Regions from separate parts of the Homo sapiens genome. Here all the other regions are linked to region 5. The links come from fine-mapping of genetic effects on gene expression. A gene starts in region 5. Each other region holds a variant in brackets. All regions are shown on one strand. Distances are from middle to middle.

Region 1 (5,000 bases), 45 kb after region 5:
CAGGCCGGGCAGCCACTCCAGGGCTCCTCAGTTCAGCAATGTGTCTCTGGTCTGAACCCCACACCTGACATCCTCTGCTTGGATGCCTGGATGCCTCCGGGGCACCTGTGCCTCAGCCTCACCAGCCCCGAGCCCAGCTCACCATGAACACAAAGATGGCTACGCAGCACCAGCCCAGCACCAGGTAGTAGCCAATCTTCCCGAAGAGCAGGCCCATGAGGACCCCGCCAATCATCCTGGGGGAGGGAGAGGAGGCTGTGTGAGGACAAGGCCCAAGGGCTGGGGCTGGCGTGAAGGGCGGGGGTACTCACCCGACATATTTGTAGCCCAAGAAGGCCACCAGGTCGATGGTGGTGAGGTCGGTGTTGACAGTGACCAGATAGAGGCTGAGCAGGATGGCCAGCACCTCCAGGGTCAGCCAGGCCAGGGCTGAGCTCGCTTGCAGCCCCAGGAGGTCTGGGGAGAACCTGCAGGCACAAAGCCCCGCCACTTGGTTGGCTGGTTCAGACCCCCCACCCCCAGCACCCATCTGGGGACAGCTCTGTGTTGGGTAGGGCTGGACACCTGGCAGTGACCAAGATGGATGTGCGCGCTATCCTATTCCCACGGAAATCCCATCCAGAGAGGATGGCAGACCCATCCCTAGACAGTGACACCCAGAGCAGGCAGGGCTGGAGTCACAGGGGGCTGTGCTGACAGTCAGGAGACAGGTGTCAGAGAGGGCTTCCCAGGAGAGGGGACACCGAGCTGAAGCCTGCAGGAAGGAGCTGGTCAGGGACAAAGCCCTTGGCCTCTGCCACATCCCCAGGGCCTCACCAGTTAGTTAATGACAGATGTGTTCAGTGCCATAAAGGAAAAGAACAGGGCGATGTGAGCAAGAGGAGGGGCCTGATCTAGCCTGGGGGGCAGGAAGGCTTCCCGGAGGAGGTGATACTGGAATGGAGCCAGCAGGGATGTGCAGGTACTCGGCAGTAGTGGAGGGGAACACGCTCCTGGGCAGAGGGGAGTTGATGTGACAAGGCCCCAGGAGACAGTGCCAGCCCTCCCAAGGAAAGGAATAGACCGGAGCGTGCAGCGGGAGGGGCAGTGCCAGGCTGAGGAGCTGGGGCTTGATTGGGAGCCATGGATAGCAGGGCGGGGCAGGGTGGGCCAGGCCCGCACCTCAGACAGGACCATCCTGGCTGCTGCTGGAGTAGGGGTGCAGTGGGGAGCTGGTGATGACAGAGGGAGGATGAGGATGGGTCTGGTAGTAGAGGCCAAGAGGAAGGGTGGATGGAGAAGGGTCACCCAGCACAGGGGATGGTGACGCAATGCATGTGGGTAGGAAGGACAGGGAAGAGGCGAGGGTGATGCTGACAGTGACCCTGAGGGCTGTATCTTGGGCCAACTGGGAGCAAAGTGGGGCTGTCCTGAAAGGGGAACTGAGACCTTGGAACTGAGACCTTCCTGACCAACCATGGGCCTCCCAAACCCCACCTTATTCGGCCTGCCCCAGGCCTCCCTTACCTATCCTGGGTCCCCAGCGCAAGACCAGCCACCAAAACGTAGGTGATGAAAGCCATTGCTGTGGGAGACAGACACACAGACACTGGTCACCAGAGGAAGAACTGCCCTGGGCCTCCAGGCACCCACACACCCGCTCCATATAGGCCCGGAAGAGAGAGGAGGGTGCAGGGTAGGGGGAGGGTGAAACCTGGAATGTAGAGGTCCGGGGCATTGACGTCAAAGCGGGGGGCCACCGGGGTGTCCTGTTGGTACTGCACTTCCCAGTCCTGCGGGGATGGGGAGACGGGCAGGACCCTCAGAGCCAGGCCCCTCCCACCCTGCTACAGGCCCTCCTCCCTCGAGGCGAATCTCCCGGCTCCACCATGCACCTGCCCCCACCCCTGAGCCCCCCACAGGCCCACTGCAGACCCACATTCCCCTGGGGGTGCTGACCTGGTGTAGGTAGGGGAAGAACAGCAGGCCCAGCTTTCTGCCCACATACATGGTGTCCACAGCAAAGTAATACTTGAGCTTGGTGATGGGGATGAAGCGGTCGATCTGGGGAGGCAGAGCTCAAGTCTGAAGCCCTGTGGCCCCGTGCATCCCCCCACTCCCACCAGCCCCGCCCACTCACGTTCTTATCCACCAGCTCCTTGCCCTGCGCGGCCAGGCTGCTCCCATAGGCCATGGCCATGTTGGACACCGGGTCAGCCAGGAAGGCTGCATGGGGCGTGGGAGAGGCTGCAGGATAACT[C/T]AGGCCACCAGGTGCCCGCTGGGCCCCATAGCCCCGGCTCTGGGCTGAACTTGTGTCATCGAAAAGCTGGTGGGGGTCGGCCATGCCCGGCTGGGACACAGGGATCCTCCGCTTCGAGGCTGCAAGGGAAGAGAGTGAGAAGGAGCTGGGGACCCAGGATAGGTAAGGGAGACCTGGCGAACCTCATTCATCCCACAGCTCTGCCTCCTGCTGCAGAGGAGGGTGGTGTCACCATTAGAGACACTGGCTTTGATGTCAGATGGACTGGCAGGTGCAAGCTCTGCCATTCATCCACCAACCCACCCATCTAGCCAACTATCCATCCACTGATACATTCATCTATGCATCCATTCATCTACCCACCCATCCATCCACCTATCCATCTACCCACCCTCCCACTCACCCACCCATCCATCCATCTATCCATCTAACCATCCATCCATCCATCCATTCATCCATCCATCCATCCAGCCATCCATCCACCCACCCATCTAGCCAACTATCCATCCACTGATGCATTCATCTGTCCATCCATTCATCCATCCACCCATCCATCCATCCACCCTCCCACCCATCAATCCATCCATTCATCCATCCACCCACCCATCTATCCATCTATCCATCTACCCACCCACCCATCAATCCATCCATTCATCCATCCACCCATCCATCCATCCATCCATCCACCTATCCAACCATCCATCCATCCACCACCCATCTAGCCAACTATCCATCTAATGATGCATCCACCCACCCACCCACCCATCCATCCATCCACCTACCCATTCATCCATCCACCCACCCACCCATCCATCCACCCATCCACCCACCTATCTAGCCAACTATCCATCCACTGATGCATTTATCTTTCCATCTATCCATCCATCCATCCACTCACCAAGCTATCTATCCATCCACCAACTCATTCATCTATCCACCCATCTATCATCCATCCATCCATCATCATCCATCCATCTAACCATCCATTCACCCACCCACCCATCCACTTATCATCCATCCATCCAGATATCAATGATGATGATTATCTCAAAAGCTACTATGTGCGAGAGGAAGGGGGGGCTATTGGGCACAAAATCCTGTACCAAGCCTTTTACACAAGGCCGCTGTCCATATCTCCTATGCTCCCCCTCAATGACTTGGCTCCAGCCACCTGCGCCTCCCAATGCTCACTGAATGCACCAGGAAGGTGCCTGCCTCAAGGCCGCTGCACCAGCTGTGCCTCTGCTTGGAACGCTCTTCCCCCAACATCCTCAGAGCTCCCTCCTCTCCTCCTCAAGGGCTTTGTTCAGTGAGGCCTTCCCCAGCCATCCTGTCTACAACCGTACCTCCCTTGGTGGCACTCCCCACCCCCTGCCCTGCTTCACTGATATCCATAGAACTCGGCACTAGCTGACATGCTGGCTGTCTTATTTTGTTCACTGTCTCCCCCACTCAACTGTGAGTCCCCCAAGGTGGGGATCTTGATCTCGTTCACAGCTGAGTCCCCAGCCCCTTGCACAGGGTTAGAGTAGGCACTTGATAAAAACCTGATCAATGAATAAAGGCAGCCTGGGCAACATGGCGAGACCCCATCTCTACAAAATATAGAAAGATTAGCTAGGTGTGGTGGTTCACGCCTATGGTCCCAGCTACTCGGGAGGCCAAGGTGGGAGGATCGCTTCAGCCTGGGAGACAAAGGTTGCAGTGAGCCGAGACTGCACCACTGCACTCCAGCCTGGGCAACACAGTGAGACCCTGTCTCAAAAAAAAAAAACAAAAAACAAAAAACAGAATAAATGACCACTCCCAATTTACAGGTGTGGAAACCAAGGCCCAGACAGCTAAAATGACTTGTGCAAAGGGCCAAACTGAGTGAGTGGCAGAGCAGGAGTCCAGCCCTGCTGTGCCTGATAAATATTACAATAATCCTGTGGATGAACTCATCTCATCTTCACAACCACCCTGTTTCTGCCAGCTGCCAATGCTATCATCATCCCCATTTTACATATGAGAAAAGCAAGCCCTAAAGAGGCTCAGGCCTTTGCCCAAAGTCATAGTATGAGAGCCAGGTTTCAAAAGTTTTTAAAAGGTCCCTGTGGCCTCACGTGGGGAACAGATGAGGGGTGGGCAGGGAAGGGAGAGAGGCTGCTGGGGTGATCCAGGTGGGAGACCATGGCAGACAGGACTGGGGGTGTAAAAGAGGAATGGGTTATTTCTGGATCAGTTTCAGAGCTAGGAGGGACAGGACTTGCTGAGGGGTGCTCAGAGGAGGTGTGTTAAGAAGTGGGAAGAGGCCAGGCGCAGTGGCTTACGCCTGTAATCCCAGCATTTTGGGAGGCCAAGGCAGGTGGATCACCAGGTCAGAAATTCAAGACCAGCCTGGCCAACATGGTGAAACCCCATCTCTACTAAAAATACAAAAATGAGCTGGGCATGGTGGTGCGTGCCTGTAATCCCAGCTACTCCGGAGGCTGAGGCAGGAGAATTGCTTGAACCGGGACCGGGGAGGTGGAGGTTGCAGTGAGCCAAGATCGCGCCACTGCACTCCAGCCTGGGCTACAGAGCGAGACTCCATCTCAAAAAAACAAAACAAAACAAAACAAAAAACGTGGTAAGAGGCTGGGCATGGTGTCTCACGTCTATAATCCCAGCACTTTGCGAGGCTGAGACAGGCAGATCACCTGAACTCAGTTCAAGACCAGCCTGGCCAACATAGTGAAACCCCATCTCTACAAAATATAAAATAGCAGGGCATGGTGGC
Region 2 (5,125 bases), 86 kb before region 5:
GAACTGGGTCAGGTGGACAGCAAAGCCCACACTATGCTGCCCCAGTTTTCAAGTTGATATTGAGACTTCAGGAGGACGCATGGGCACACTGGCGCTCCAGAAAGAAAGAACGTTCAGGCTGGGCGCTGTGGCTCACGCCTGTAATCCCAGCACTTTGGGAGGCCGAGGCGGGCGGATCATGAGGTCAGAAGTTCAAGACCAGCCTGACCAACATGATGAAACCCCGTCTCTACTAAAAAATACAAAAATTAGCCAGGCATAATGGTGGGTACCTGTAATCCCATCTACTTAGGAGGTTGAGGCAGGAGAATCACTTGAGCCTCCTGAGTAGCTGGGATTACAGGTGCACACCGTCACACTTGGCTAATTTTTTTTTTTTTTCAAGTACAGATGGGGTTTCGCCATGTTGGCCAGGCTGGTCTCAAACTCCTGACCTCGGGTGATCCATTCGCCTCAGCCTCCCAAAGTATTGGGATTACAGGCGTAAGCCACTGCACCCGGCTGGCCACTTACTTTTTACCCTGTGCCATTTATGTAGTTTAATTAGACTTTTTTTAGGGTTGGTTTTTTTTTTGTTTTTTTTATTTGCTTGTTTTTTGTTTTTTTTGAGTGATGGGGACTCTGTCACCCAAGCTGGAATCCAATGGTGCAGTCATGCCTCACTGCAGCCTCAAACTCCTGGGTTCAAGCGATTCTCCCACCTCAGCGTCCCAAGTAGCTGGGACTACAGGCATATGCCACTATGCCCAGCTTAATTTGACTTTTATTCCGTACATGTTCCCCATCATTACTACTTTCAGAGAGAATCCATTAGTGTACACTCCTCCAGAGATTTTTCTCTAAACCTTTACCAACCCAGTTCTTTCAAACATACCACTTAGGCCAGGCATGGAGGCTTACACCTGTAATCCCAGCACTTTGGGAGGTCAAGGCAGGTGGATCACCTGAGGTCAGCAGTTCAAGACCAGCCTGACCAATATGGAGAAACCCCATCTCTACTAAAAATACAAAATTAGCTGGGTGTGGTGGCACATGCCTGTAATCCCAGCTACTCGAGAGGCTGAGGCAGGAGAATCGCTTGAACCTGGGAGGCGGAGGTTGCAGTGAGCCAAGATCATGCCATTGCACTCCAGCCTGGGCGACAAGAGTGAAACTCCGTCTCAAAAAAACAAACAAACAACAAAAAAACAAACAAACAAACAAAAAACATGCCACTTAACCCTTACCTTGCAAGAAATACAGTGACTTTTTAAAAATTCTAGTTTAGCTGGGCCGGGCGCGGTGGCTCACTCCTGTAATCCTAGCACTTTGGGAGGCCAAGGTGGGCAGATCATGAGGTCAGGAGATCGAGACCACCCTGGCTAACACGGTGAAACCCCATCTCTACCAAAAATAGAAAAAACTAGCCAGGTGTGGTGGTGGGCGCCTGTAGTCCCAGCTACTCAGGAGGCTGAGGCAGGAGAATGACGTGAACCTGGGAAGCGGAGGTTGCAGTGAGCTGAGACTGCGCCACTGCACTCCAGCCTGGGTGACAGAGCAAGACTCCATCTCAAAAAAAAAAAAAAAAATTCTAGTTTATTTTGCCAGGCGCAGTGACTCATGCCTGTAATCCCAGCTCTCAGAGAGGCAGAGGCAGGAGGATAGCTTGAGCACAGGAGTTCGAGACCTGCCTGGGCAATTTAGTGAGACCCCATTCCCCACAAAAAGGGGGAAAAAAGGACAAAAAAAAGTATAAAATTCTACTTTATTTCTTTTTTTCTCTATACATATGTGTGTATATCTATCTATATATTTTTTCCCTTAAATACACAGAATCATGTTTTATACCATGCATCGTTTCCATTTACTATAGTTCAGACCATCTGTCCTCATACATAAACAGAGATTGACCTTTGCACTGGCTGCATAGTTTTTGATCATAAGGATATGCTTGCGGCAGGGCGCAGTGGCTCATGCCTGTGATCCCAGCACCTTGGGAGGTCGAGGCAGGTGGATCACTTGAGGCCAGAAGTTCAAGACCAGCCTAGCCAACATGGTGAAACCCCGTCTCTACTAAAAATACAAAAATTATCCAGGCATGGTGGTGAATGCCTATAATCCCAGCTACTCAGGAGGCTGAGGCACAAGAATCGCTTGAACCCCGGAGGCGCAGAGGTTGCAGCGAGCCGAGATCACACCACTGCACTCCAGCCTGGCCATTTCCAACTTTTCCTGATTATAAACAGTACTACAGAGACCGTCCTCATACCTGCCTGTGTGTGCTTGTGCAGGCTTTTGGTGTGT[GTGT/G]GTGTGTGTGTGTGTGTGTGTGTGTGTGTGTGTGTGTGTGTGTTTTGTAGCTAAGACTATGGGACTATGGGCATGTGCTATTATTCCTGGCTATTTTTATTTTTTTGTGGAGGCAGGGTCTCTAGGGCTGGGCATGGTGCCTCACAACTGTAATCCTAGCACTTTGGGAGGCTGGGGTGGGAGGATCATTTGAGCCCCGGAGTTCAAGACCAGCCTGGGCAACATAGCAAGACCCCGTCCCTAGATAGAGTCTCTACAGCAACTCCTGGGCTCCAGCAGTTCTCCCACCTAAGCCTCCCAGAGTGCTGGGATTACAGCATGAGCCACCATGCCCGGCCTTGTGCAGGCTTTTCTATTGCATGGATTTCTGGGAGGCCAAATGTCTTGTTTTTGTTTTTGAGATGGAGTCTCACTCTGTCGCCCAGGCTGGAGTGCAATGGTGCGATCTCGGCTCACTGCAACCTCCGCCTCCCAGATTCATGCCATTCTCCTGCTTCAGCCTCCCGAGTAGCTGGGACTACAGGCGCCCACCACCATGCCCAGCTAATTTTTTTGTATTTTTAGTAGAGACAGGGTTTCACTGTGTTAGCCAGGATGGTCTCGATCTCCTGACCTCATGATCTGCCCGTCTTGGCCTCCCAAAGTGCCGGGATTACAGGCATGAGCTACCACACCCAGCCAGGCCAAATGTTAAGCTGAAGCCAGTCATCCTTCAGTTCTCAGTTCTGATGCTCTTGTCTCCTGGGGAAAGCATTCCTGACCATTCTTGGTGTTACATGCTTCAGTAGTTCCCTGGACATCTCCTCACCAATGCCTACTCTTTGCTCCATTGATAGATGTTGCTAAATTGTGGAAAGCATTACATAGTTGCTGTTTCAATCCAGTCGGACAATCCCTGCCTTTTGATGGGAGTGTTCAGACCATTCACGTTAAATGTAATTATTACTGCTAATGGTTGGATTTGCATTAGCCATTTTGCTATTGTTTCTGTATGTCTACTATCTTTCTTGCTCCTCTGTTCTTCCTTACTGCCTTATACTGTAGTAAATAAATACAGTTTCAGGCCGGATGTGGTGGCTTACACCTGTAAAATCCCAGCACTTTGGGAGGCCCAGGCGGGCAGATCACCTGAAGTCAGGAGTTCGAGACCAGCCTGGCCAGCATGGCAAAACCCTGTCTCTACTAAAAATACAAAAATTAGCTGGGCGTGGTGGCATGCACCCGTAATCCCAGCTACTCAGGAGGCTGAGGCAGGAGAATCGCTTGAGCCAGGGAGGCGGAGGTTGCAGTGGGCCAAGGTTGCACCACTGCCCTCCAGCCTAAGTGACAGAGTAAGACTCTGTCTCAAAAGTTAAAAATAAAAAATATATATAATTTAGTATAACATTTGGATTCTACTCTTGTGTAACTATCTTTTTAGTTATTATAATGTGCGTCTATCACTGCAATTCAGGTTAATACTAAATTCCAATAAAATATAAAACTTTTCTCCAATATTGTCCTATTTCCTTCTCCCTTTTTTGTGCTCTGTTTATCATAAACATCCATATGTGTTTTAACCCAGCAGTATAGTATTGTCATTATTGCCTTATACAGTCTTATGTCTTTAAGGAAGTTAAGAGAAGAAATAAGAAAGCATATACTTTTATAGAATCTTATTTTAAACCACAGTTTGCCATCTTGGGCTATTCATTTCTGTCTACTGACTCAGGTCATTGTCTAGAGTCATTTCTTTCAGCCTGAGGACTTTTTTTTTCTTTTTTTTTAGATGGAGTCTCACTCTGTCACCCAGGCTAGAGTGCAGTGGCGCAATCTCAGCTCACTGCAACCTCTGCCTCCTGGGTTTAAGCAGTTCTCCTGCCTCAGCCTCCTGAGTAGCTGAGATTACAGGTGCCCGCCACCACTCAGTTAATTTTTGTATTTTTAGTAGAGATGGGGTTTCACCATATTGGCCAGGCTGCGAGCTCTCCTGACAGGCGATCCACCTGCCTTGGCTTCTCAAAGTGCTGGGATTAACCCGAGGAGTTTTAAAATTATTTTGTATCAGGCAGGTGTGCTAGCAACAAATTCTCTCCATCTCTGTTTATATAGGAACATCTTTCTGTTGCCTTCATTTTTCAAGGATGGTTTTGCTGGGTATAGAATTCCTGGTTAACAGTTGTTTTCTTTCAGCACTTTAAAAGTTACATTTTATTTCATTCTTTTAAATGAGAAGTCAGCAATTAATTGTGTTTTTTTTTCTTTTTTATAGAAGTGGGGTCTCACTGTGTTTCCCAGGCTGGTTTCCAACTCCTGGGCTTGAGTGATCTTCCCGTCTTGGCCTCCCAAAGTGCTGGGATTATAGGCCTGCTAATTGTATTGATGCTCCTCTATATGCGATGCATCATCTTTTTCTTGATGCTTTCAAGATGTTTATCTTAGCATTTTTCTTTTTTTCTTTTCTTTTTTTTTTTTTTTTTGAGACAATTTCACTCTTTTTGCCCAGGTTGGAGTGCAACGGCATAATGGCGTGATCTCGGCTCACCGCGACCTCCGCCTCCCGGGTTCAAGCGATTCTCCTGCTTCAGCCTCCCAAGTAACTGGGATTATATGGATGCGCCACCACACCTGGCTAATTTTTTTGTATTTTAGTAGAGATGTAGTTTCTCCATGTTGGTCAGGCTGGTCTCGAACTTCTGAGCTCAGGTTATCTGCCCGCCTTGGCCTCCCAAAGTGCTGGAATTACAGGCGTGAGCCACCGCGCCCGGCCAGCATTTAACTTTCAACTCCTTTTCTAGGTGTGAATCTCTTTGTATTTTTCCTACTTGGTGTTTGTTGAGCTTCTTGGATGTGTAAGGTT
Region 3 (5,125 bases), 140 kb after region 5:
GTCCGCAGAGGGACCTGCTGTGCCATCAACAAGGTGGGCATCTGGGGTAGGGAAGGGCCCTGGCATCCTTGGCCTTCAGATTGGCCTTTCAGCCTCTGCTCCAGTCCAAGTTTCAGACTTACCACCTCTAATCCACCCACTAGACATGGCAGCTAGAAGGACCTCGCTCACACAAAAACTGACTGTGGACTCCCCAGCTCAGAATGCTTCCGTGGCTCCCTAATGATCTGAAAACAAAGTCTAGCTATTTACTGAGTCCCTGGCTACTTCTCCAGCTTGGGCTTAAAATCCTTCCCTATCACCAAACACTACCTATTTGTTGTTTTTTAACCTTTTTTTTTTTCAAGACAGAGTCTTGCTCTGTCACCCAGGCTGCAATGCAGTGGCTTGATCTTGGCTCACTGCAACCTCCACCTCCCGGGTTCAAGCGATTCTCCTGCCTCAGCCTACCGAGTAGCTAGGATTACAGGCACCCACCACCATGTCCGGCTAATTTTTGTATCTTTAGTAGTGACGGGGTTTCACCATATTGGTCAGGCTGGTCTTGAACTCCTGACCTTGTGATCTACCCGCCGTGGCCTCCTAAAGTGCTGGGATTACAGGTGTGAGAAACCGCACCCTTTTAACCATTTAAAAAAAAAAAACAAAGACAGAAATAGGCCAGGCACAGTGGCTCACGCCTGTAATCCCAGCACTTTGGGAGGCCGAGGCAGGCGGATCACGAGGTTAGGAGATCGAGACCATCCTGGCTAACACGGTGAAACCCCATCTCTACTAAAAATACAAAAAAAAAATTAGCCGGGCGTGGTGGCAGACACCTGTAGTCCCAGCTACTCAGGAGGCTGAGGCAGGAGAATGGCGTGAACCCAGGAGGCGGAGCTTGCAGTGAGCCAAGATGGCACCACTGCACTCCAGCCTGGGCGACAGAGCAAGACTCTGTCTCAAACAAACAAACAAACAAAAAACAGAAATACCCTCTGTTTTAGTGATTAGGTATCTAGCCGCATGCCTCTGTAAGTAGTCTTATGTAAAATGAGTATTAGGGAATAAAGTCTAACACAGCAACTATTGAGGCAAAATTTAAGTTAAGAAAAAAACTGAGCCCGAGGTGGGTGGATCACTTGAGCCCAGGAGCAGAGGTTGCAGTGAGCCGGGTTCTCGCCACTGAGCTCCAGCCTGGGCGACAGAGCCTAGGCGACTCTGTCTCAAAAAAAAAAAAAGAAAAGAAAAGTAGGCTGGGTGCAGTGGCTCACGCTTGTAATCCCAGCACTTTGGGAGGCCAAGGTGGGCGGATCACAAGGTCAAGAGATCGAGACCATCCTGGCTAACACGGTGAAACCCTGTCTCTACTAAAAATATAAAAAATTAGCCAGGCGTGGTGGCACGCACCTGTAGTCCCAGCTACTTGGGAGGCTGAGGCAGGAGAATCTCTTGAACCCGGTAGGTGGAGGTTGCAGTGAGCTGAGATCACACCACTGCACTCCAGCCTGGGCAACAGAGTGAGACTCCGTCTCAAAAAAAAGAAAAGAAAAAAGAAAGCTCATGCTAGTATCTTCCACCAGTTCAGTCCCCCCTCCCCCAGCCACTGTACTCAAATAGTCAACATCTGCTGTTTCTTCTTCAGCCTCATGCTGTTCCCTTCGCTCTCTGGCCCCCTTGTCCAAGATACTTTTTTTCTCTGCAACTCAAATCTCATAAACTCTCAGGTGCTTATGGGCAACGTTCCAGACCGGGGGGGCCGCCCAAATGAGCTGGAGCCTCCCATGCCCACCTGGAGGAGCCGAAGAGAGGATGGAGGCCCCCAGTGTTGGGGTCGCAAGAAGAAGAAGAAGAAGTAAAGGGGGACTGGTGGTCGGGGGCGGGGGGTCCTCCATGAGATGCTAATGCTATCGGTAATCTCTGGGGAGTCCGTTTAAGGCTTTCCTTGGTATTTGGCACCCAAGCCCCCCATCTCCTATTCCTGAGTCCCCAAATGCCCTGCTCCCATTCACGTCAATACCAAGAACCATGTTCTCCAGAGAATAAATTTAATTTATGACAGCTGTAGGACCTCTCTCTGTGGGGGCCAAGTCAGGGGTGTTGGGGTTTGTGAAGGGGTTGGGGGGGTCTCTGCTCCCTGGGACTGAATGGGCCCCTGCTGCTCGACCCTCAAAGTTCTTTGCCCTATAGCACATCTATCCTG[T/C]GCCGTGGGCATGGGTAAGGAGACATTCAGGCATCAGACAAGCATCTGTCAGGCGCCTACCACCTGCCAGCCCTGTTCTAGGCACTGGGGATGCAGCAGTGAATGACATTGATAGAAATCCCTGTTCTCCTGGAGTTGATGCTCCTGTTGAGGAAAGACAGACGTTCAACGAGATAAAGAGGGAAAAAGTATAGGCTGTCAGAGGGAGCACATTCTATGCAGAAAAACAGGAGCTGGGCGTGGTGGCTCACGCCTGTATTCCCAGCACTTTGGGAGGCTGAGGCTGGTGGATCATGAGGTCAGGAGTTTGAGACCATCTTGGCCAACATGGGGAAACCCCGTCTCTACTAAAAATACAAAAATTAGCCGGGCATGGTGGCGCGTGCCTGTAATCCCAGCTACTTGGGAGGCTGAGGCAGAAGAATCACTTGAACCCAGGAGGCGGAAGTTGCAGTGAGCTGAGATTGCATCATTGCACTCCAGCCTGGGTGACAGAGCAAGACTCTGTCTCAAAAAAAAAAAGAAATGGAGATGTAGGGAGTTGGTAGAATGAGGCCTGAGTCTAAATGTATCCAACACACAGCCGCACAGATACTAAGTGCAGGGAAAGGGAGCAGGATTAGCATCCACCAGGATGCAAAAGAGGAAAGTCACTTCCAGGGAAAAAGATGACGGACGTACCACTAAAGGCAGTGTGGATGGGAAGGCGGATGCCTCTGGAGGCCTACCTCTGGGAGCCCTGCCAGAGTCTGACGGCAGGACTCAGGACTGACTGGGGGAAGGGAGTGAGGAAGAGAGGAGACCAAGAGATGTCTAGGAATCCAGCTTGGAGGATGCAGTTGATGGTGGGTCCATCACCGGGCAGGGGACCTGGAAGGAGGAAGGGAGGAAGAAAGATGACAGATGATGTGGGGAGCATATGATGTCTAGGAGACGCTTCACTGCCAGGAACACTTCCCTGCCCAGACTGGTAAGTGGATGAATGAACGTCCCCTGTGGAATCCTTTTTGTAACCCAATCTGAGAGTCTCTGCCCTCAAATAGTGGCGTTTACTCCATTAACCCGTACAGTAGCTCCTGATATATTTGGCCTTATTCTTGCTATCTTATTGGCTAGAATCCTTTTTTCTGTTCTCCTAGTGGTTATTGTCCCCACCCTACCCCCAACATGTTGAAACTTCTATTTTTCTTTTTTTTTTTTTTTTGAGACAGGGTCTTGCTCTGTCACCTAGGCTGGTGTGCAGTGGCACAATCTCAGCTCACTACAGCCTCTGCCTCCCGGGCTCAAGTGATTCTCCTGCCTCAGCCTCCCGTGTAGCTGGGACTACAGGCACCCGCCATCACACTTGGCTAATTTTTGTATTTTTAGTAGAGATAGGGTTTTATCACGTTGGCCAGGCTGATCTCGAACTTCTGACCTCAAGTGATCCTCCCACCTCAGCCTCCCCGAAGTCCTGGGATTACAAGCATGAGCCACCACACCCAGCCTATTTTTCTATCAATATTAAAAAGTAACCAGTATCCATACCCTCCTACCCCAGCAGTCAAGGACTTCTGCATATTTGTACTTTCTATGGGTCTCCAAATCTGTCCAGTCTTCCCCACGCCAATGGCCTGTGTCCCCTGTATCCACTTGGGGGTAGGGGCGGTTTCTCCTCACCGTATCTGTTTCCCAGGAAGGGTGTGGGGATTCAGTCTGGGTCCAGGCATGGCGAAGCTGGCACCCAGTCTCAGGCTCCAGGGATAGCGTGTAGGAGTGATTTTCCTCGGAGCCTGTTTGTGGGTGGATGGAAGGGATGTGGGTCTGATGGGAAGGACCTCTTCTTGACCTTGGACTCAACCCCTTTCCCCCAGGCCCCTTCCCAGCACCGGTGTGCTCTAGGTCTTACCACAGCTGGCATGGGGAGCTGGTGTGGATGGGACAGGAGCTCCGGGGGGTCCTGCATCGCCCTTGGCCCCTGGCCTCTTCTTACATTCTACCTTCACCTGGTCTCTGCAGTGTTTGTGGCAACACAGCCCGCACTCTGGGGGAAGGCAGCGGCAGGGGTCCGATCTGTGTCATCCATTCTTCCAGCCTGCGGGCCAAGGCTTCCCTCCCACTCACTGACACCCCACTCACCCCGACAGCGGTAGCCTTGCTTGGTGACACCCCAGAGCTGGGAAGAGAAAGGAGAAAAGGTTACCCATCCTAGGAGAGGGAGGGCTGTGGATTGGCAGGGCAGCTGGGGAGTGGAAGTGTGGAAGCTACCCAGGTTTTGAAATTCTCAAGGCTAGAGATTTAACTGGAATTAAAGGAATGTGGGTGGGGTACAGTGGCTCATGCCAGTAATCCCAGCACTTTGAGACGCCAAGGTGGGAGGTTGGGAGGCCAAGGTGGGAGGATCGCTTGAGCTCAGGATTGGAGGCTGCAATGAACCATGATCGTACCACGGCACTCCAGCCTGGGTAATAGAGCAAGACCCATCTCTTAACAAAATAAATAAAGGAAACTTGGAGATTATCTCAAGTTTAGATAATCACCTCAGATATTAGATTTAGGTAAAATTTAGAGTTACTAAAATGCAAATTCTATGGGCAAGAGTTGTCTGCTGTATTCCTGCTGTAACCCCAGGGCCTAGGATTACCTGGCACACAGGAGGTGCTCAGTAAATATTTCATGAATGAATAAATGAATGTGGGAAGTAATCCAAGGTTTGTGAATTAGTCTCGGGTTATAGGTTGAGAGATTGATCCACTAGCCAGAGTTTGAGGATCTCTTGAATTTGGAAGTTATTCAGAGTTTGAATGATCTGGAGTCTAGAGATTTGGAGGATGATTCTGTTTGAACATAATCTACCCGGTTTGGAGATTATCCAGGTTTGTTGTTGTTGTTGTTGTTGTTGTTGTTGTTGTTGTTGTTGTTGTTGTTTTTGAGACAGAATCTCGCTCTGTCACCCAAGCTGGA
Region 4 (5,125 bases), 42 kb before region 5:
CAAACTGGGTGAAAAAAAAAAAGAAAGGAAGAAGGAAGGAAGGAGGGAAAGAAAAGAAAAAGAAAGAGAGAGAAAGAAAGAAAGAAGGAAGGAAAGAAAGAAAGAAAGGAAGGAAGGAAAGAAAAGAAAAAGAGAGAGAGAGAAAGAAAGAGAAAGAAAGAAAGAAAGAGAAAGAAAGAAAGAGGCCGGGTGCGGTGGCTCACGCCTGTAATCCCAGCACTTTGGGAGGCCGAGGCGGGCAGATCATGAGGTCAGGAGATCGAGACCATCCTGGCTAACACGGTGAAACCCCGTCTCTACTAAAAATACAAAAAATTAGCTGGGCGTAGTGGCAGGCGCCTGTAGTCCCAGCTACTCGGGAGGCTGAGGCAGGAGAATGGCGTGAACCCAGGAGGCGGAGCTTGCAGTGAGATCGCGCCACTGCACTCCAGCCTGGGCGACAGAGCAAGACTCCGTCTCAAAAAAAAAAAAGAAAAAGAAAAAGAAAAAAGAAAAAAAGAAAGAAACAATTAGCCCTCCAGATACACCTAGACCCTGGGGAAGACACAGCCAGATGAGATGCTTGGACACATAGCGGGGAGATACCGACATACTCAGGGAGAATCACTCAGCTAGATACACACAAACACACACAGGAGACAGACAGGAAGAGACACAGCCAGGTGGGCACTGCCACGCTCCTGGGTACACACAGACCCTCGGACTCAGGAAGAGAAACTGACCCCGAGGATCCCGATATTCCTAAACACATTCAAGGGTAAGTCCAGATCCTCTGATGGACTGGCACACACGTGCAGAAATACACCTGATACGCCAGACACCATCAGGAAGATTCTCCCAGACACTCCGAGGCACCCACACACCCACAGAAAGAGACGGCCGCACCGCCTAACACACCCAGACACACTCGGGAGGAGCCGGACACCCTGACAGACCAGACATACACAAGACACAAGCCTTCTAAGACACTTGGAGACACCTGGGAAGATACACCTAAGAGAGGAAAGAGCTCCAACCAGACACTGAGACATCCAGACGCCCTTGGGGAGATACAGAGGCAGACACCCTCAGGCACCCACAGAAAAAAATACAGGCAGATGGCCGGGCATGGTGACTCAAGCCTGTAATCCCAGCACTCTGGGAGGCCAAGGCAGGTGGATCACCTGAGGTCAGGAGTTCGAGACCAGCCTGGCCAACATGGTGAAACCCTGTCTCTACTAAAAATACAAAAAAATTAGCCGGGCATGTCAGTGTGCATCTGTAATCCCAGCTACTCAGGAGGCTGAGACAGGAGAATCGCTTGAACCCACTAGGCGGAGGTTGCAGTGAGCTGAGATTGCGCCACTGTACTCCAGCCTGGGTGACAGAGCCAGACTCCATCTCAAAAAAAAAAAAAATACAGGCAGACTGATCCATCCCAGTTCCCAGGGGAAGGGACACAGTCAGCAACTCCATACACCCACACACACCTAACAGATATCACTATGCCCTCCAATACCACTGGGACCCTTGGTGGGGCATGGTGGTTCACGCCTATAATCCCTGCACTTTGGAGGGCTGAGACAGGAGGATCCCTTGAGCTCAGGAGTTCAAGACCAGACTGGGCAACATAGTAACACCCTGCCTCTATTTAAAAAACAACAGGCCAGGCGCGGTGGCTCACACCTGTAATCCCAGCACTTTGGGAGGCCGAGGTGGCCAGATCACCTGAGGTCAGGAGTTCCAGACCAGCCTGACCAACATGGTGAAACCCCGTTTCTACTAAAAATACAAAATCAGCCGGGCATGGTGGCGCATGCCTGTAATCCCAGCTACTCGGAAGGCTGAGGCAGAATCGCTTGAACCTGCTAGGCGGAAGTTGCGGGTTCAAGGTTCAACTCCCCGCTAGGTGGAGGTTGGGGGATCACGCCATTGCACGCCAGCCTGGGTGAAACTCTGTCTCAAAAATAAATAAATAAATAAATAAATAAATAAATAACAACAACTGGGCACCTGGGCCCATGTAGGAGGAGATGCAGTCGCCACTCAGTGACTCAGAGAAACTGTGGAATCTCTGGGAAACACCCGGGACGCACATGGGCAGACAGACACACAGCCAGCCAGGCAGACACTTGCTAGAAGGCGATAAAGGTGATGGACGAGTGCTAGGACACACAGCAGGCGCTGGGACACCGATGGGGGCCCCAGCGGCTGCACCCACCGATCTTGTACTCGCAGGGCCTGAGTCTGGGGTCCTCCAGGATGTTGAGTCTCCGTTTCTTCCTCCAACAGCGGGCGGGGTACGTGTAAATCTGTCCCGGGGCCAAACCTGGAGAGAGAGGGGGGTGAGAGGGCGGCGGCGGTGGGGCGGCCTGGCCCCGCCCCGCCCTGCGCCAGCCCTCCCGGCGGTACCCGGCCCGCGGTGGGTCTTCTCCATCCAGATGTAGCAGTTGTTCTGGGCCACGCCGGTCTGCGAGTCGAGGAAGGGCAGTCGCAGGCTGCGCTCGGCGCACAGGCGCGCGTTGTAACTGCGGCAGTGCTCGATGGCCTCGCGGTAGAAGTCCTCGCCTAGGCTAGAGGGGCGGCGAACGGGCGGGCGGCTGTCAGCAAGGGCAGGCGCACAGGGTCGCCCAGCACCCCTTCCCCGGCTGCCGGGCCGCCCAGGCTCGGGAGGGGTGGGCCGACCCCTCCAGCCTCACCTCTCCCCTCCTCCCACTCCGGGACCCAGGCTGGGGGAAGGGGACAGGGCCCAGGGGCCCCCAAACTGGGACTCAAACAGGCCCCCAGCTCATGAGTAGAAACACGATACAGAAACAAACAAAAACACACCGGGACGTATCCCTACCTGAACACATGCAGACACACAACACAAATCACACACAGTCACACGGGATTCACACACAAAGAGAGACAAATCCCAATACTCACAAAGGAGAAACAGACAAACCTCACACACGTGCACACATAAATATCTACTGAAAAAGACAAATATCCCAAGTTCCATAGTGTGGAGACAAATCACACAAATAACCATGCACAAAGACACATCACATATCCACAGACACACACCAGAAACACATCACCCACACAAAGACACACAACATGGAAACATCACACCACACACACATACACCCCCTCATGCATCCAAAGACACAAGCATGTCAAAAGACAGGAACTACAGAAACCACTTGC[G/C]CCCCTAGGCACTTACCCATGTATCCAAAGACACAACACAAACCACACACACAATATCCAGACACACAACACAAAGAAATCACACAGATTCACACAGGTACACACACACATTTACAAAGATGCACGATGCGCAACCAGTATCTAAAATATCACACATCCACACAGACACACACACATATAAAACACAGAAACAGCCAAATCCACCCATAGTCACACAAAAATTTACACACAAATACACGCAGCCCTACATACCCAAAAACACAGAACACAAGACAAATGACATATAGTTCCAAAGGACACGGACACACACTGGGAGACCCAAATATCCAAAGATATCTAGTGCAGAATAAAAGGAAACAGACACATGTCCACACACCTATCCCCCAAAAATTCTTAAAAAAACCAGAACACAAATAAGTGATACACACACACACTCCACATCCCAAGACAAAGGTAGTGTGGACTTCACTCCAGTTGCCAAGGCCCCCGCACCCCCGGGTCATTTCAGTCTCTCCCAGACCCGAGGGTTGCAGGGAAGGGATGATGTCTCCCTTCCCCAAAAAGAATCTGGAGGCCCCCCACGCCCTCCACCCCGCCAGGGAGCGGTGCATCCGACACCATTCTTGTCAGAGACCCACAGTCACACACTCTCGCACCCCCGCGCAGCCCCGCACTCGGTGACAGCCCCCCAGACACCCCTTCGGCCCCACCCCCGGTCGCCACACACACACAGGCCCGCGTAGACCCGCCCGCGCTTCCTCTCCGCCTCCCGCCGGCCCGCACCACCTCAGGGGGCCAGGGATGACAGTGGCCATCTTGCTCCCCGGGTCCTGCCCCCAGCAGGTCCCCGCCGGGTCGGTCCTCCCAGCGGTCGGGCGGGCGCTGAGGCCGCCCATCCATTCATTCCCGGGGGGCGGGAGCACGAGGGCCACGGCCAATCGCGGCGACGGGGCGGGCCCGCCCGGGCCATGCTGGGAGTGGTAGTCCCAGGCCAGGGGGCCCCCGGGACCCCGCGGGGACGGGACGGCGCGGAGGAGGGGCCCGGGGCACGCACCGTCACTCACCCGCCCTCACTCGTCCACATATCCTGCTCTCGCGTGCACACAACCACATGCACACCTGGACTCGCACACGCCCACGCATGGCAGTTTACACACACATTCACGCGGATACTCACAGCCTCCCACACACTCCTACTCACACACCTTCGCACGGACTCACACAGCCACACGCACACACACTGCAATACTAAGAGACGCAGAGACACCTCCCAGGTGCCCACACAGACTTCTCACCAACATGCTTCCAGCAGACACCCCCTCACCGCCCCCCACCCAAGTCCCTCCTGGCTCCAGAGACCCCACCCGGGGCTGTCTCTCCCAGCAGCCACGCTCACGGTCACCCCGCCCTGCTCAACGCCTTCTGCAGGCCTGACAGCAGCAGTGCAGGTTAGAAACAGTAGTCACACCTCCAGGGTTCAAATCCTAGCTCTGCCACTTGGTGGCCATGTGACCTTGGCAAATGACTTAACCTTTCTGGGCCTCAGTTTCCTCATCTGTAAAAAGAGGATGATGCCTCACTGGAGTGTTGTGAGGATTAAATGAGTAAATATAGGTAAAGCATTTTAAGAGGTGACTGGCAGGCCAGGCGCAGTGGCTCACACCTGTAATCCCGGCACTTTGGGAGGCCCAGGCAGGTGGATCACCTGAGGATGGGAGTTCGAGACCAGCCTGGCCAACATGGTAGTAGTCTCTACTAAAAATACAAAATTAGCCGGGCATGGTGGCGCATGCTTATACTCCCCCACTCAGGAGGCTGAGGCAGGAGAATCACTTGAACTCAGGAGGTGGAGGTTGCAGTGAGCTGAGATCGTGCCATTGCACTCCAGCCTGGGCAACAAGAGTGAGACTCCCTCTCAAAAATAAATAAATAAATAATAAGAAAGAAAGAATAA
Region 5 (5,125 bases):
CAAGAGATTCTCCTGCCTCAGCCTCCCGAGTAGCTGGGACTACATGCTCCCGCCACCACGCCCGGCTAATCTTTTTGATTTTTTCACCGTGTTAGCCAAGATGGTCTTGATCTGCTGACCTCGTGATCCACCCGCCTTGGCCTCCCAAAGTGCTGGGATTACAGGCATGAGCCACTGCGCTCAGCCCTCCTTTTGAGTTTTTGTGTTTAAAGTTCAAAACTGGACAGATGCAGTGGCTCACGCCTGTAATCCCAGCACTTTGGGAGGTCAAGGTGGGCGGATCGTGAGGTCAGAAGTTCGAGACCAGCCTGGCCAACATGGTGAAACTCCATCTCTACAAAAAATACAAAAATTAGCTGGGCGTGGTGGCGGGTGGTGCCTGTAATCCCAGCTACTCAGGAGGCTGAGGCAGGAGAATTGCTTGAATCCAGGAGGTGGAGGTTGCAGTGAGCTGAGATCACAGCATTGCACTCCAGCCTGGGCAACAGGTGAAACTCTGTCTCAAAATAAAATAAAATAAAGAAAGAAGAGGCCTATACCTTCTTCCAAGCCTTGACGGCTCAGCACATACTTCTCTGTTTTCATGCTCAAGCCTAGGTTTAGTAGGCCTGAGTGGCAGTGGGAGATTCAAGTGCTGGGGGAGACCTTTGGCCTCACATTCAGATTCCACCTTGAGTCCCATGATCTCATTGCAAGGTTAGACTTCCATTGTTTAAGGTAAATACCATTTTGATAACTCAGTTACGGCTTTTCATGTATTATTATGCTAGGAGGGAGGCTGAAGAGTGGGAGTGGCCCTGGCTCCTGAACACACTATTCTCTTTCCTGCCTGAAGGCCTCCGCATGTGCCATTCCTGATTCTTGGAATGTTTGTCCCTTGGCCTTTATCATCCTTCAGAGTTCATTATCAAAGCCACCCCTCACAAAGCCCTTCCTCCGCCACCCCATTCAAAAGATCTCTTGTTATTTTCCATCCCAGCCCCTGATTCCTTTTCTGTATAGCACTGTCAAAGTGTTTTCAGGCCAGGTGTGGTGGTTCACGCCTGTAATACAACACTTTTGGAAGGATGAGACAGGAGGATCCCTTGAAGCCAGGAGTTTGAGACCAGCCTGGGCAACATAGCAAGTCCCCTGTCTCCACAAAAAATTTAAAAATTAGCTGGATGTGGTGGCTCACATCTGTAGTCCCAGCTACTTGGGAGGCTGAGGTGGGAGGATCCCTTGAGCCCAGGAGGTCAAGGCTGCAGTGAGCCAAGATCACTCCATTGCACTCCAGCCTGGGCAACAAGAGCAAAACTTCCATCTCAAAAAAAAAAAAAAAAAGAAATAATCTAAAAGTGTTTTCAATAATAATGCATTTATGTTGATTACCTTGTTGGCTATCCTCTACTCGTGTGCCTGCCCCACTCCATTCCCCTTTCTAGAGTCTGTTCACGTAACTCCTCTTCCAGGAAGCCCTCTTTGACTCCCAGGCTTGGTCAGGTGTCTTCTCTGGGTTTCCCCAGGGGCTTCCTTCCTCTCAATTCTGATGCTGCCTGTGCTAAGTATTTGTCTCCATATCTGTCCTGAGAACCTTGGAGCCAGGGCTCGGGGCTGTTTTTGCATGGGCCTATCACCTCCTCCAGGAAGCCCTCCTTGGCCCTCTCTCAGGCTGGATGGGAAAGCTGTCTGGGCTCCCATCATGCCCTGGTTTTCTAGCGACCCAGCCTCTGATCCCTAAGCTTGGCCTTCCCCATCACAGCTTTCATCACTTTGTGCTAAGCTTCCGCTATCACTACTCTGGGCCGTTCCTGTTTGGTGACTCAGGGACCAGTCTGGCATGGCCACCGCTGGGTCCCCAGCATTAAGCCCTGGAGCATGAGCCCAGTGAACTTTGAAATTCAGGAAGGAATTCACAGGAAAGCTGCGGCGAGGCGGGCAGAAAACCACAGGCTTCCAAGAAACGCGTGTCTGCCGCCCCCTCCTCCCACCCTGAGGCCAGTCCTAGAGCGAAGGCCCTCCTCCGACGTCGTCACCAAGCCCAAGGGAAGGGTGGCAGGTGCTCAGCGGGCAGACGCCCCGCCCCGCCCCGCCAGGTTCTGTTGGGGGCGAGGCCCGCGCAAGCCCCGCCTCTTCCCCGGCACCAGGGGCGGGCCCAGGTGCGCCCAGGGCCGGGGAGCGGCCGCGCAGGTGCCTGCCCTTTGCGCCTGCGCCCAGCTCGCCCTGCCTAGCCAGGTGCGCCCCGCCCCCTGCCTGCCCGGCCACCTTCGGGAGCCGCTTCCAATAGGCGTTCGCCATTGGCTCTGGCGACCTCCGCGCGTTGGGAGGTGTAGCGCGGCTCTGAACGCGCTGAGGGCCGTTGAGTGTCGCAGGCGGCGAGGGCGCGAGTGAGGAGCAGACCCAGGCATCGCGCGCCGAGAAGGCCGGGCGTCCCCACACTGAAGGTCCGGAAAGGCGACTTCCGGGGGCTTTGGCACCTGGCGGACCCTCCCGGAGCGTCGGCACCTGAACGCGAGGCGCTCCATTGCGCGTGCGCGTTGAGGGGCTTCCCGCACCTGATCGCGAGACCCCAACGGCTGGTGGCGTCGCCTGCGCGTCTCGGCTGAGCTGGCCATGGCGCAGCTGTGCGGGCTGAGGCGGAGCCGGGCGTTTCTCGCCCTGCTGGGATCGCTGCTCCTCTCTGGGGTCCTGGCGGCCGACCGAGAACGCAGCATCCACGGTGAGGGCCGGGCGGGTAGGCTGGAGGCGGGGCGCAGGGGGCAGAGGCTCGGGGGTCAACGGGGGTCTGAGCAGGGAGAACTGGCGGGGGAGGAAACTGGGGGCTACTTGATGGCGTTCAGCGGGTGTGGTGGAACCAGCCCTGGAGGATTGAGCCTTGAAATGAGGTTTGGGAGCCTTCGACAGCGAAGACGGGCGGAGGAGCGAGGGTTAGGAGAGTTTCCTTCGGGTGGAGGAAGAGTCAAGGGGTATTGACCAAGAAGGCGTGGCACTGCCCCTTCCTGTGGCAAGAACGGGGTGAGGAGCCGAATTGAAGACCAGCCTTCTCCTGGCGGTGGAAAGTTCCATGGCCAAAGCTCAGGGAGAGGCCAGGCCTGTGAGATGGTGGGGGTTGGGTTGGGTGACCTGGTGGCCGTTTTAGACTCGGAAGAAGCCCATCTCACCCCTGCCTCTTTGGAGATTGGACAAGAGCCTCCCCTGAAGTTTTTGTAGTTGAGTTGCAGTAAAGTAGGTGCCCGAGAAGGAGGGAGCAAGAAAGGAAACAAGCTTTGGGGAAGAGGAAGCTCTGCTAAGGCTCGAGAGAGTATTGGCGTTGAGCAGCTGGTGTTGGGGTCTTTGGATTGGCCCTTAGAAGTCGGTGGTGAATAAGGTGATTTAAACTTCTACACTCTTAAGGAAGTGTGGTCTGAAAGGTCTCTTTGAACAAGTGTTGTTATAACCTTAACTGCTTCAGACAAGCACCAGCGTGTTTTGAAAAGAGCTCTCTTGAAAGCAAGAATTCATTGATTCAGCAAAACTTACTGAGGCCCTGCTACGTGTCAGGCACTGGCGCTGGTTATAACAGTTAACTCAGACTAGCTGGGTTCCTGCATTCACAGAGCTAATATTCCAGTGGGAGAGGCAGAGCTAGTGAAGGTTTAAAAAGCACTTGCCATGAGATTAAGTTACTGAGAATTAAATGAACCAGGTGAAGTACACCAACAGGGTGACGTAAGATGTTGGGGGCGGCTTTAGCTCAGGTGGTCGGGGGACGTCTCCGTGAGGAGGGTGACATCTGAGCTCTAACATGAAGAATGAGGCAGTAGCCACACGGAGACCTGGGGGACCAGTGTCCAGTTGCAGGCAATAGAGTACAAAGGCCTTGAAGCTGGAACAAGCTTGGTTGGGTTCAGGGAAAAGACAGAGCCAGCCTGGCTGGAGCAGGCGTGAAGGAGGGGAGGACTGGAGGAGGATGGGAGGTGGGAGAGGTTGGCTGCAGCCAGATGGCCTAGGGCTTTATAGACAGGTGCTGGTGCTTGAACCCGGGAGGCGGATGTTGCAGTGAGCCAAGATCGCGCCACTGCATTCCAGCTTGGGCAACAAGAGTGAAACTCCCATCTCAAAAAAAAAAAAAGAAGGCCGGGTGATGTGGCTCATGCCTGTAATCCTAGAACTTTGGGAGGCCAAGGCGGGCAGATCACTGGAGGCCAGGAGTTCAACACCACCCTAGGCAACATGATGAAACCCCGTCTCTACCAAAAATACAAAAATTAGCTGGGCATGGTGGTGCACACCTGTAGTCCCGGCTACTCGGGAGGCTGAGGCAGGAGAATCGCTTGAAGCCCAGAGGCGGAGGCTGTAGTGAGCTGAGATCAAGCCACTGCACAGCAGCCTGGGCGACACAGCAAGACTCAGTCTCAAAAAAAAAAAAAAGAGCAGGCTAGGTGTGTACCAAGTCATCACCTGTGGTAACTTCTGGGGACTGGTTAATTTCTCTGTGCCCTAGGCAGGAGAAAAAAGTGAATTGGTGGGGAGAGGCTCAGCTGTAGGTGACTGGGAGTCAGGAATGCAGACGTTGATCATTCTTGCAATTCGAACCAGAATTTGGCAGCTCTGCTGGACTTTTTCAGTTTAAGTAATTACGTTAGGATGTACCTCCCAGTTACCTGGCCTCTTGCTACCTCTGGTGCTTACTCTGAGCTGGGACATGGCCTCTTGCTACCTCTGGTGCTTACTCTGAGCTGGGATGTGCCATTTAACCTTTGAAACAGCCGGGTGCGGTGGTGAAGTTACTTGCCTTGCCCGAGGTCACTCGGTAGTAGTAATTGACAAAGCCAGGTCTCACTGCAGAGGCCTTCTCTGTTCAGAGTGGCCTACCTGACTGCTGCTGCCGACTGGACCTACTGACCTTTCAGAAGTACTAGTGTCTGACTGGGTGAACTCATGCCCTCACTCATCGTAAGTTCTGTTTGTTTGAAAGCTTGAACAGCTTAATCGGAGGCAGAAGGCAGTTTTGACTTTTTTTTCCTCGCTCCTTCCTGATTGCTTCTGTTTTCTCCGGAAGCGAGTCATCCACTGGGAGTGTGGTGTTGCTGAAGCTCCATGCAGTGGCTCAGGTGCTGCTGGATGAGTGTGGTGGTGAGGGAGGAGTGAACAGAGAATGTGTGAG

What was found. PIP is the estimated chance that this variant, and not a neighbour inherited with it, causes the effect.
Region 1: its variant is fine-mapped to the expression of SPINT2 in whole blood (TOPMed, PIP above 0.99).
Region 2: its variant is fine-mapped to the expression of SPINT2 in whole blood (INTERVAL, PIP above 0.99).
Region 3: its variant is fine-mapped to the expression of SPINT2 in whole blood (TOPMed, PIP above 0.99).
Region 4: its variant is fine-mapped to the expression of SPINT2 in whole blood (TOPMed, PIP 0.96).

What each region holds. Positions count from the first base shown.
Region 1 is chr19:38,307,286-38,312,285 of GRCh38, forward strand. It overlaps YIF1B (Yip1 interacting factor homolog B, membrane trafficking protein), which reads right to left. Exons shown (of 8, transcript NM_001039672.3): 2 at 2,120-2,358; 3 at 1,939-2,043; 4 at 1,694-1,772; 5 at 1,507-1,564; 6 at 312-467; 7 at 143-236. Among named protein-coding and RNA genes, the nearest start is that of C19orf33, 5.5 kb to the left of the region's middle. RefSeq lists a silencer at 259-428. The variant C/T (reference allele first, on the strand shown) is at 2,240.
Region 2 is chr19:38,175,810-38,180,934 of GRCh38, forward strand. The region is part of intron 15 of SIPA1L3 (signal induced proliferation associated 1 like 3); the gene reads left to right. Among named protein-coding and RNA genes, the nearest start is that of SNORD152, 15 kb to the left of the region's middle. RefSeq lists an enhancer at 1-182. The variant GTGT/G (reference allele first, on the strand shown) is at 2,284.
Region 3 is chr19:38,407,045-38,412,169 of GRCh38, forward strand. FAM98C (family with sequence similarity 98 member C) reads left to right here. Exons shown (of 8, transcript NM_174905.4): 7 at 1-33; 8 at 1,707-2,040. The coding sequence ends at 1,838. It overlaps RASGRP4 (RAS guanyl releasing protein 4), which reads right to left. Exons shown (of 17, transcript NM_170604.3): 14 at 4,301-4,337; 15 at 4,071-4,205; 16 at 3,842-3,954; 17 at 2,014-3,052. The coding sequence ends at 2,996. Among named protein-coding and RNA genes, the nearest start is that of FAM98C, 6.5 kb to the left of the region's middle. The variant T/C (reference allele first, on the strand shown) is at 2,183.
Region 4 is chr19:38,220,157-38,225,281 of GRCh38, forward strand. It overlaps DPF1 (double PHD fingers 1), which reads right to left and starts at 4,066. Exons shown (of 12, transcript NM_001135155.3): 1 at 3,958-4,066; 2 at 2,392-2,552; 3 at 2,201-2,308. The coding sequence starts at 3,986. RefSeq lists a silencer at 3,831-4,400. The variant G/C (reference allele first, on the strand shown) is at 3,172.
Region 5 is chr19:38,262,301-38,267,425 of GRCh38, forward strand. It overlaps SPINT2 (serine peptidase inhibitor, Kunitz type 2), which reads left to right and starts at 2,273. Exons shown (of 7, transcript NM_021102.4): 1 at 2,273-2,698. The coding sequence starts at 2,593. RefSeq lists enhancers at 1-763, 904-1,821 and a silencer at 1,978-2,297.